Regions from separate parts of the Homo sapiens genome. Here region 1 is linked to region 2. The links come from fine-mapping of genetic effects on gene expression. A gene starts in region 2. The other region holds a variant in brackets. All regions are shown on one strand. Distances are between the middles of the regions.

What was found.
Region 1: its variant is fine-mapped to the expression of ERC2 in cerebellum (GTEx, PIP 0.96).

Annotation. Positions count from the first base shown.
Region 1 is chr3:56,163,455-56,168,839 of GRCh38, reverse strand. All of the region lies in intron 4 of ERC2 (ELKS/RAB6-interacting/CAST family member 2), which reads left to right. Among named protein-coding and RNA genes, the nearest start is that of ERC2, 300 kb to the left of the region's middle. The variant A/G (reference allele first, on the strand shown) is at 2,407.
Region 2 is chr3:56,465,502-56,470,886 of GRCh38, reverse strand. It overlaps ERC2 (ELKS/RAB6-interacting/CAST family member 2), which reads left to right and starts at 2,420. Exons shown (of 18, transcript NM_015576.3): 1 at 2,420-2,639. RefSeq lists an enhancer at 3,472-3,766.

The DNA of each region.
Region 1 (5,385 bases), 300 kb after region 2:
TAATTTTTTGTTATAAAAATAAGACTTCACTTTGTCTTTGTGCCCAGGCAGATAACTGTTGTTCTGCATGGAGCTGACCTGCAGCTGGGTTAAGTTTCACTTAAAAGGTATCTTGGTATTTGGTCAAATTTAGCCTGTTTAGTTCCACAGAATATGAAAGGGATGTACTGGAACACTGTGAAGTCAAGAACTACTACTTCGCAACTTTACCAAGTTTCATATAACTGGAAAGGGGAGAGAGTTCAAAGGCAAACCTAGACTACTCAGCACAACCCAATACCCATTATGAACTTGTCTGAGTCCTGGAATCTGGTCAGAGACACTATGAAGTAGCTGCCACTTCTTTGACTGTAGGGCCTACCTAGGTTTATTTCATTCATCTTCTCCAAGGATGCTGTGTTCATATGAAATTTGTGCCAATCCCAGTTTTTCTAGTAAAGCAATTATGATGATGGCTTTTAGGCCTTAAGAATATGCCCCTGCTCCTTTTGTGGCTATTAAAAACAATAACAGCACTAACAACAACGATGTCACCTGCACCCCCAGTAATACCCAATGACAGCAACATCACTACCACACATAAGGGCTACAGCACTTGATGTGCAATAAACCTGTGAATAGGCAGAGTTATCCCCAATTCACAGATGAGAAAGCTACGGGTTAGAGAGGATAAGCAACCTGCCCATGGTCCTGCAGCTAGTCAGATTGGCAGCTGAGATTTGAACATAAGTTTCTCCTCAAAGCTCTTGCACTCTTTACTCCTTCTTTCTGCCTTTTCTAAAGATAGCCCAAAGGTTCAAACGTTTTTTCTTTCAACATTTACTTTGGAAATTGTGCATTGAGGTTTGCATCCTAGAATGGGTAGAGGCAGCTCATGAGAGATGGAGTGGCTTATGTGATATTTTTGGAAAGGTGCAGAGCTGTATTTTGTGCTAAAAGGCAAAACTCATCCTTTTTACATGCATGTGTTATCATGGCTCCAAATAGGGCTCCAAATATGTACATTACAGCCAACATATGCCCTGTTTCTCCCCCTGCATTTTAAGTCTTGCTCTGAAGTCTTTTTTTAACAGCCTGGTGTGATAACTTGTTCAAACTTGTAAAGGACTGTGTGTTTTGATGTGCAGTGTGCATTTACAATATTAGAATTATCCTTTAGCTTACTTTTTTTTCTTGGGAAATTTCTCTATCTTCTCATTTTCCAACTGGACCCCCCAATATAAAGCAACAACAAACCCCTTTATCCCATTTAACTATTTGCCTTAAATAATGGGCAAAATGTGATTTTTAAGTGATGGTCAAGTCAAATGTTAGTTCTAGATGATATATGGTTGTCACTTAGAAGCAAGTAAGATTTTTTTTTAGAAGATGAGAATTATTTCCCTTTCCCCCCAAACTCTTCTTATGATATATTTGACTCTACATGTTTGACTAAATGTTGCCAGTCAATAATTCCTGCTATTACCCAGGTTAGTTTTTGTGAATCTAACTCCTGAAGTTGCATAATAAACACCAGTGTTTACTGAGCAACTATTTTGTGTACAGCACCATGATGAGGCTTTCAGGAAAAACTGAGTTCTAAGTCTTTAAGGAGCTAATGGAATGAAGTACATAAACCAGGTTATAAAGTGACTTAAGAAGGGCAAATGAGCTATGAGGAGTCAAAGGATATCAAATAAGAGAAGAAGACAGAATGCTTTTTGGAGAAGGTAGCATTTGGAGAAAGCCTTGGAAAACTGGCATGATTTTGGTAAAGGGGAATATGGTTTATAAACAGTGGGAACTATAAGAGCCACGAGTCTAGAAAGGATAAGGAGTGTCTTTGGCAGAGCAAATCATTCAGTTTGATTGAGAGAAGACATTGTAAATTTAAAAGGTGTGGTAGATCGCATTAAACCAGTAGAAAAAGAAGGTGGAGAGAAAGAAATAATAAACATAAAAGCTAACATTAAATAAATAGAGGGTAAACATATACTAGAGTGGAGCACCAAAACTAAATGCTGTTTTTTTGAAGAGATTCACAAAAATGACAAATCCTGGTTAGAATCAGCAAGAAGAGTAGAGACAGCAAAAATAACCAATATCAGGGATGAAAGTGGGGCATCACTATAAACCTTATTAACATTAAAATATGAGAGGATTTTATTAGCAACTTTGTGATAATAAAGTTGAAATTTTAGATAAATGAAAAAATTCTTTTTAAAAACACAATTTGTCAAAACTTGCTTAAGAAGAAATAGAATATCTGAGTAGTCTTATATGTTAAAGGAAATGATTCTATAAATTAAAATCTTACCACCAAACCAAAAACCTAAAAACCCAAACCAAACAGAAACAATTAGAGGCCCAGATGGCTTTTTTGAGTGAATTGTACCAAATGTTTGAAGAGGAAATGAAATCAATCAT[A/G]CAGAAACTCTTCTAGAATAGAAAAAGAGGGAGCATTTCCCATCTTGTTTTATGAGGCCAGCATATGTTTGATATTCATACCCAGCAAATATATTACAAAAAAGGAAAATTACAAGCAATCTCCTGAGTAAACACTGATGGTAGAAAATATCCTAGTGAATTGAACTCAATGACAAATAAATGACATGACCAAGTTGTGTTTATTTTAGGAATGCAAAGTTGGACTGATATTTGGCTATCAATCATGTTATCCACCATATTAAGAGGATAAAGGAGAAAATGAATATAATTCATAGGTACAGAAAAAGCATTTGATTAATGCAACATCCATCCATGGCCCCCAAAAATGTTTTTCAGAAACTCAGAAGTAGAGGATTTTCTTAATCTAATAAGAATAGTTACAAGAAAGCTATAGCTAATATCATGTTCAATGGTAAAATGTTGAAAGCTTTCTCTATGATATAAGGAATAAGACAAGAATGCCAGTTACCATCACTTCTGTTCGATAATGCTATGGACATCCTAGGTATAAAAATTAGAAAGAAAAAAAAAACATTTTTGTTCACAAGTACCATAATCGAGTCTGTAGAAAATATCAGTGAATCCATATATACAATATTAGATTAGTAAATAAATTTAGCCAAATGGCTGGCCAGTATTTTAAAATGAATCTTATTTGTACATACTAGTTATAAACAATTAAGATATGAAATTGAGAAAACAATATCACTTACACTGGTATTAAAAAACCCCAAATATATAAGAGCAAGTCTAACAATAGCTATAAAAGACCTAATTTAAATAAAAAGGTATAACACATAACTAAATGTAGAATAACTAAAAACTTTAAACAAGTGAAACAGCTGTCAGCAGTAGGGTGGATAAAACAGTAGTGGAATATTCATACAATGAAATGCTATATGGCAATGAGAAGGACCAAGCTATTGCCATATGCAGGGGGGAGGGGGGAGGGATAGCATTAGGAGATATACCTAATGCTAGATGACGAGTTAATAGGTGCAGCACACCAGCATGGCACATGTATACATATGTAACTAACGTGTACACTGTGCACATGTACCCTAAAACTTAAAGTATAATAATAAAAAAAAAGCTATTGCCATATGCAATAGCGTAAATGAATACTATCCCCAAAATAATGTTGGAAGAAGCCAGCCACAAAAGAACATATATAATATATGTTCTCCAAACAAGCTAAACTAATTGATAGTATTAGATATCTGTATAGTAGTTAATTTGAAGAAGAGGAGGGAAAAGTGAAGGTTGGGAGGGCCAGGAAGGAGGTTTCTGAAGTACAGGTAATATTCTATTTCTATTATGTTCTGTTTTGTGATCTGGTTGGCCCAAGTGTGTTCACTTGACCACAATTCATCATTTTGAAAGTCTATGATTTGTGTACTTTCTTATATTAATACTTTAATTAAAACGTTTCTTTAAAAATAAAGAAAAAATAATTCATCAATAAAAAGATAACTGAATTACAAAACTGGGCAAAAGATTTAATTAGACATTTCTCCAAAGAAGACATACAAATGGCCAATAAGGACATAAAAAATACTGAACATCATTCGTCATTAGGGAAATGCCAATCAAAACCAGCATTAAATACAACTTCTCCCACACTAGGATGGCTAAAATAAGAAAGACAGACAATAATGAGCGTTGGGGAGGATGTGAATAATTAGAATTCTCATATGTTGATGGTGGGAACATAAAATGGTACAGCCCTCTTTGGAAAACTGTTAGCAGTTCCTCAAAATGTTAAACATAGAGTTACCACATGACCTAGAAATTTCACTTGTAGGTACACACCCAACAGAATTGCAAACATATGTCCGCACAAAACACTATCCACAAGTGTTCACGCTACCATTATTTATAATAGCAAAAGCTAAAACAACCCAAATGTCTATCATCTGATATATGAAGAAACAAAATATGGCATATCCACATAGTAGAATATTATTCATCAACAAAAAGTAATAAATTACTGATATAGGCTACAACATGGATGAACCTTGAAAACATTATGCTAAATGGAAGAAGTCAGTCAGAAAAGGCCACATATTATATGATACTATTAATTAAATGTCCAGTGTAGGCAAATTAGGGACAGAAAGTAGATTAGTGATTGCCAGGAGCTAGGGGGAAGGAGGAAAGAAGAGTTACTGCTAATGTGTACTGGATTTTGGGTGATGAAAATGTTCTGGAATTAAATAGCAGTGATGGTTGCAGAAACCTCTAAATTATACTCTTTAAAAGGGTGAATTTTATGGTGTGTGTATTATAGCTCATGAAAGCTGTTATTAAAAATAAAGAAAAATATTATAAAGGAAATGATTAATAACTTTGCTTACTTAAGGCTTACAAGAGATTCTTAAGGGCATTCTAAATATGGATACAAAAGAATGATACCTGCTGCCACAAAAACACACTTAGTACTTAGCCCATAGACCCTATAAAGGAACCACACAATCAAAACTACAAAGCAACCAGCTAGCAACTTCATTATAGGATCAAAACCTCAAATATCAATATTAATCTTGAATGTAAATAGTCTAAATGCCCCACTTAAAAGGCACAGAGTGAAAAGTTGGATCAAAAGACAAGATTTATCTGTCTGCTGTCTTCAAGAGACCCACATCACATGTAACAACACACATAGGCTCCAAGTAGAGTTGGAGAAAGATCCACTGTGCAAATAAAAAGCAAACAAACAAAAAAGGAGCAGGGGTCACTATTCTTATGTTGGATAAAACAGACTTTTAAAACCAACAACAGTTAAAAAGGACAAAGAAAGGCATTACATAATGATAAAGGATAAAGACTTTTCTAACCTAAAAATGTATGTACCCAACACTGGAGCACTCAGAGTCAAAAATATGAATTTGTAAGACTTACGAAAAGACTTCGACAGCAACACACAATAATAGTGGGAGACTTCAAAACCCCACTGTG
Region 2 (5,385 bases):
CAAAACAATACAAACCAAACCAAACCACCACGACAACAAAAAACCCTGGAGCAACAGACCATGTTTTAGAAAATATAATATGTTTTAGAATTTTCTGTCCTGAAGGGTTAGATCTCACAATGGCTACTTGTTAGCATATTGCGAGGGTGTGTTTGTTTGTGTGTGTGTGTGTTTGTGTATGTATTTGTGTACCTATACACACATATATGTGTATTTTAACCTAAAGTTAGAAAATGTTAGAGTTGAGAGCAATCTTAAGATTCTTTAGTTCCGCTTTTTATTTTCAGAAAACTAAGTCCCAGAGAGGATAAAGATGACTTGCTTAAGATTCCTATAACTTCCACTCTTCGTTTTACTATGTAGAGTCACTTTCTATTTAAAGTAATTATTCTTAACTTTTCTGGGTCAAGGACCCAATTTGAAAGAAATCTGTTGAGAACCATGAATCTTCTCTCTGTGGGAAAAATGTACATAAGCATGTACATAATAAATTGATCCCCTGAATGTCAAGGGTTCCTTTTAAAACCCACGGATCAAAGGAAAAGAGAATGGGTGGCCAACCAGAGTGAACCTCAGGCATTGATTTAAATAAATTCTTCATGGGATCACCCTGGTATGTTACCCAACTTTTCTGAAAGTTGGTAAACATCTTATAGAATATTTGTGAGAATAGTTGAGAAAATGTAAGTGCCTGCACAGAGGGGGGTACTAAAAAATGTTGGCCACGTTTCAAAAGATGTGGGATTTTAGGAATTCTCAAAGGACTCTCAACAAGGCTCTCATATACAACAAGCCTTTTGAGCAGAGGCTGTCAAGGATGTATGTGGGGAACAAAACACAATAGGTGGAGCTTGGTTTTGCCCCTGGAGCATCTAGGTCAGGAGAATGAGTGTTGATTTCTCAGAGAGAGAAAGAAGAGGATGAGGGCAAAGAGAGTCTATGAAAAACCTTAGCTACCAGAGGTGTACAGGCTTAAGGAACAGGCATTTGGGCTGGAACAGGAAGGCATCCTTGTCTCTCAGAGTCTGATTCCCTGAGCAGGAATCATTTAATATTTGAATTCCGGCGGGGCGCGGTGGCTCACGCCTGTAACGCCAGCACTTTGAGAAGCTTGAGGTCAGCGGATCATTTGAGGTCAGGAGTTCAAGACCAGCCTGGCCAAGATGGTGAAATCCCGTCTGTACTAAAAATACAAAAATTAGCTGGGCGTGGTGATGGACTCCTGTAATCCCAGCTGCTCAGGTGGCTGAAGCAGGGAATTGCTTGAACCCAGGAGGCAGAGGTTGCAGTGAGCTGAGATGGCACCACTGCACTCCAGCCTGGGAGAAAGAGCAAGACTCTGTCTCCAAAAAAAAAAAAAAAAAAATTGAATTCCTATCGGGGAGGAAAGAAGGATCCATCCTCTAATCGCTGTACTAATTCTATGCCTCTGCGCACCCAAACATCCCATGGCTGGATTTGCTTTATTTGTCTGAGCTTCCCAGCAGGAGAAATTTAGATCTGGCCACTGAAATTGCTGGAAGCAGACTCATCAGGACAGGAAGGAAATGACTGCTCTATCCCTGCAAATTGACTACTCAGTGAAAGAGACCAAGTTTAAAGATGCCCATGGCTATCCCAGTACCCTCCCTAATATAAAATGGCAGCAGCTGGGGCTCCAGACTTGTTGAGTGGAAGCTTTTTCCAATGAAAAACTTGTCCAAATCCTCTTGCTCATTACCTTGAGGTGTGTGTGTGTATCTGCCTGTGTGCGCGCGTATCAACTCAGACATCATCTTTCTACCTTAAATTGGGACAATGCAAGCACATTTCAGGGCACAGAAGAGGCACCCAGTGAATATGACGGATGCGATCTTTTCTCTTGTTCCTGTCTTTATCTTTCATTCTGTCCTTTCTTTGGGGGAACAATAAAGTGAAGATCTTATGAAATTCTTTCAACCTCCTAAGGAACATTAAAGCTGATGGACGGTGCCAGGGTATGGTAACCACGACCCCTTACTCCAATGCTTAACTTAAAAGATAAGTGCCATCCCTGCCCCTGTCACCAAAGCCACCTGACAAGTTCCCAGTGTGCCTGGCAGCTTTTGGAGGGGGGTACCCGGGAAGGGGCGTCGGGGATGGAAGATTGGGGACAGGTGCTTCGCGCCGCGGCCTGCCGGGAGGAGGCGCTGCGAAGACCCCCGCCCATGCCGGGCGCTTTCTGCTGCCCCCAGCGGAGGCGCCCGGGCCCCAGCCCCGTCCCCCCTAGCGGCTCCTCGGGAATGCTGGGAATGTGAGTCAGGGCCTCTGCGAGCGGGCGAGCGTGCCGGCCGGCCGGGTGGGGGCCCCGCCGAGCGCAGCGCCTGGCAGCGCCGCGCGAGCGCGCGTCTCGGGACTGCGGCGGGTGCCGCCCCCTCGGCCGCCGGCCCCGCCCGGCCCCGCGCCTGGCCCTGGCCCTCCGAGCAGTGTCCTCCTCCTTCCCTTCTTTCCTCCCTCCCTGTTCCCCGCCCCGCTTCTCCTCCTCTTCCTCCGCCTCCCGCTCCTGCTCGCTCGGTCTCCGGCTCCGGCGCCGGCTCCTGCTCCTCCTGGCCGCCCGGGGCCAAGGCGACGAGAGGTTGTAAAAATCCATGTGGGACGGCCCCGGGGCGAGCATCGGAAAGGTGAGACGCCGACGCCGGGGCCGGGGCCGCCTGGTGCCCGGCTCCCTCGGGGCGCCCGTGCCCGGGCATTCCTCGTGCCGGGTCCCCCTCGCTCGTGGGGAGCTGCAATGCGTTATCGTGGGGAGCCTAAGGGTGAACCATCCGCCTCCTACGGGGCTTTCTTGGGCGGGGGGAGGGATGGGGCGGCCTAAGGGAGGCTTTGCCCTGATGTATAAACCCCCGGATTGGAACAAGTGCACGGTTTCCTCCAGCGCGCGGGCGCCGCTCGCTAGCCCCGGCTGCCCGGGCCACCTCCCGCAGTCCCTCTCCGGCAGCCACCCTCACTGCCATCGCCTTTCTTCTCTCAGATCCCCCTCTTCTGCCTGGCGTCCCCTCTTGCCTCGAGGGGTGGGGTGTTCGCGGGGTCGGGGGTCTTGAGCAATCCTAAGCAGAACAAAGTGGAGAAAGGTGGAGCCCCCGCCCGGGGGTGGGGTGGCTGGCCGCCTGGGTGGGTTCAGAGGGGAGCATATTTTTTTTTAAAAAACCCGTGTCAGGGAAAATGAAGCCGATTTATCGGGGAGGGCTAGGGGATGGTGTATGAAAAGGAATACGATGTGAAATTGAACTGAACGGCATCCCTTCTCTCCTCCTCCCCATCTCCTAATTATACAAAAAAAGGGATACTTACGAAGGTGTACCTAATTAAAAAAAATACCGTACGAGCCTTTGAAAGATCGTCTTAGGACAGTGAAGATTAAGAGCTGCTTTGGTTCGGGGTAATAAAATAGCGCTCGTAAACTCTCCGTTCGGCCCTGCCTTATTTATTTTGTACTTAAGGGTCTCTGTTCTCCTTGCCAGAGAGGGAGGGTCCGCTCTTTTAGGAGTGGATCGATTTTAGGCGGCTACCTGCCTTTGCTGTATGAAAGGCAATTTACTCCCCGAGCGGTGAATTGTCGGTTCCCTCTGTGATTGACAGCCACACCTGCCACTTACGTGGGTAGAATGGGGACCGGTGGAACCCAAAGAACCAATCAATGCTCGGGAGAGGAGGGCAGCTCCCACTTGTCATGGTTAGTTTCCTGGTTGGCTCTTTAAATCAGTGATTTTACTTAACCATTGGTTTCCACCTGGTATGGGGATACAGCTGTGAGAGGCAGACAAGCGGGAAGAAAACTCTTTGAAAATGGACTTTTAGAAGCAAGTATATTTGACCTGTGTTTCCTTGTCCTCCCCATCCCTTACCCACCACCCCCCTGATTATTAGTTGTAGTAGTTGCGGATGCCGAGGCCACTGGCTTAAAAATGAAAATGAATCTGTGTAAAGAAGGAATTGGGGGAGGGGGTGTTAGAATTGCCCACCTATTTCTCCAGAATTGCAGTCTTTATAAGAGACAACATGTACCGTTGAGCTATCCGGGAAAAGGGTGTGGCACTTTGTCTCCTATGGTCACTCTTGTCCTTGTAAAGTCACATTGTTTCTCAGTATACAGTACTTGGGGCTTGGCTCTACTGGATGGATTTATAAGGTATTTTTGGAGCCGGCAAACGTTCTTTATGGGGAGTCACATGAATAGAAGGGATTCTTTTAGTTCTGACAGTTAACTCAACTTCTGGAAGTGAGGGCTGCCTTGTTCTCTTTTGCAGAATGTCAGTTCGGTGGTGGTGGGGTCAAGCCATTTTCTTTCCGGGGAGTAGTAGAGTTTGCCTTTTTCTCATGTAAGCCATCTTGTCTGTTTGCTTCTGTGCTTTAATAAAATACTTTTACAGTTTTGGCAGGGAGGGGTGTGGAAGGTGATGGTGTCATGGTTTTCACCAGCAAGACTTTCACGGGTGGATGAATCATGGGTGAAGGACCAGATCCATCTCAACTCACTACTAGTGAAAGCCTGATTTTTCAACACCCTTCTCCCTGAATTCATTAGAAAAATTACTGATTGATCCAAAGAGCTGTCACTTTATAGAAGTTGTACCTGGATGTGAACATAATTCTGTGAATTAAGCCTTTCATAAACAGACTGTGAGCCAGAATATACTGATTAGAATGGTTTTCATGTAGAAGCCGGGTTTGTCAAAGCAGTATTATTACTATTACTATCATCATCATTGTTATTGCATAGGCAAGCACTTTGTTGAGTACTTTATATGCATTATCTTTTTTAAACCTTGTGGAGCCCCTGTGAGGTAGGTACTATTCTTACGCCCAAATTATAGATGAGTAACTAGAAGGAATTCAGTATCTTGCCACAGTTTAGTATGAAAGCAAGAACCTGAGCCCGGGTTCGTCTTACCCAGAGCCCATGACCTTGGCCGTGGCCTTGACTTCAAATTTTGGTTGTGTAGTCTGCATGTGTCCAGTCTGAAGTGTGGGTTCTCCCAGCATACGTAGAGCTAACCATTTTAAGAGTCCACTGTGATTCTGACAGTCCTTTTATCAGCCTGTTTTGCCTTTGCATTTGAAGGCTGTGGCATGGGCCAATAGGCAAATTTAGTAACTCTGTTTATTATATATTTCCAGTAGAAACATAATAAAATATAAAAAATATAACACATAATAAAATAAAAATTTTGGCTCGATAAAAATTTGGTTCCAAACTTAATGATGATGACTTAAAAGAAGGTAAAACAAAACAAAATTCACACTCTTCCATTTTTCTTGACACCTTAAATTTCCAATTAGAGTTTTAAATAGATCTTGGTTGAATAAATGCTCTTAACATCCTTCAGTTGTCTCCCCACCAAGGGATTAGGGTTTTATTTTCTTTGTTAT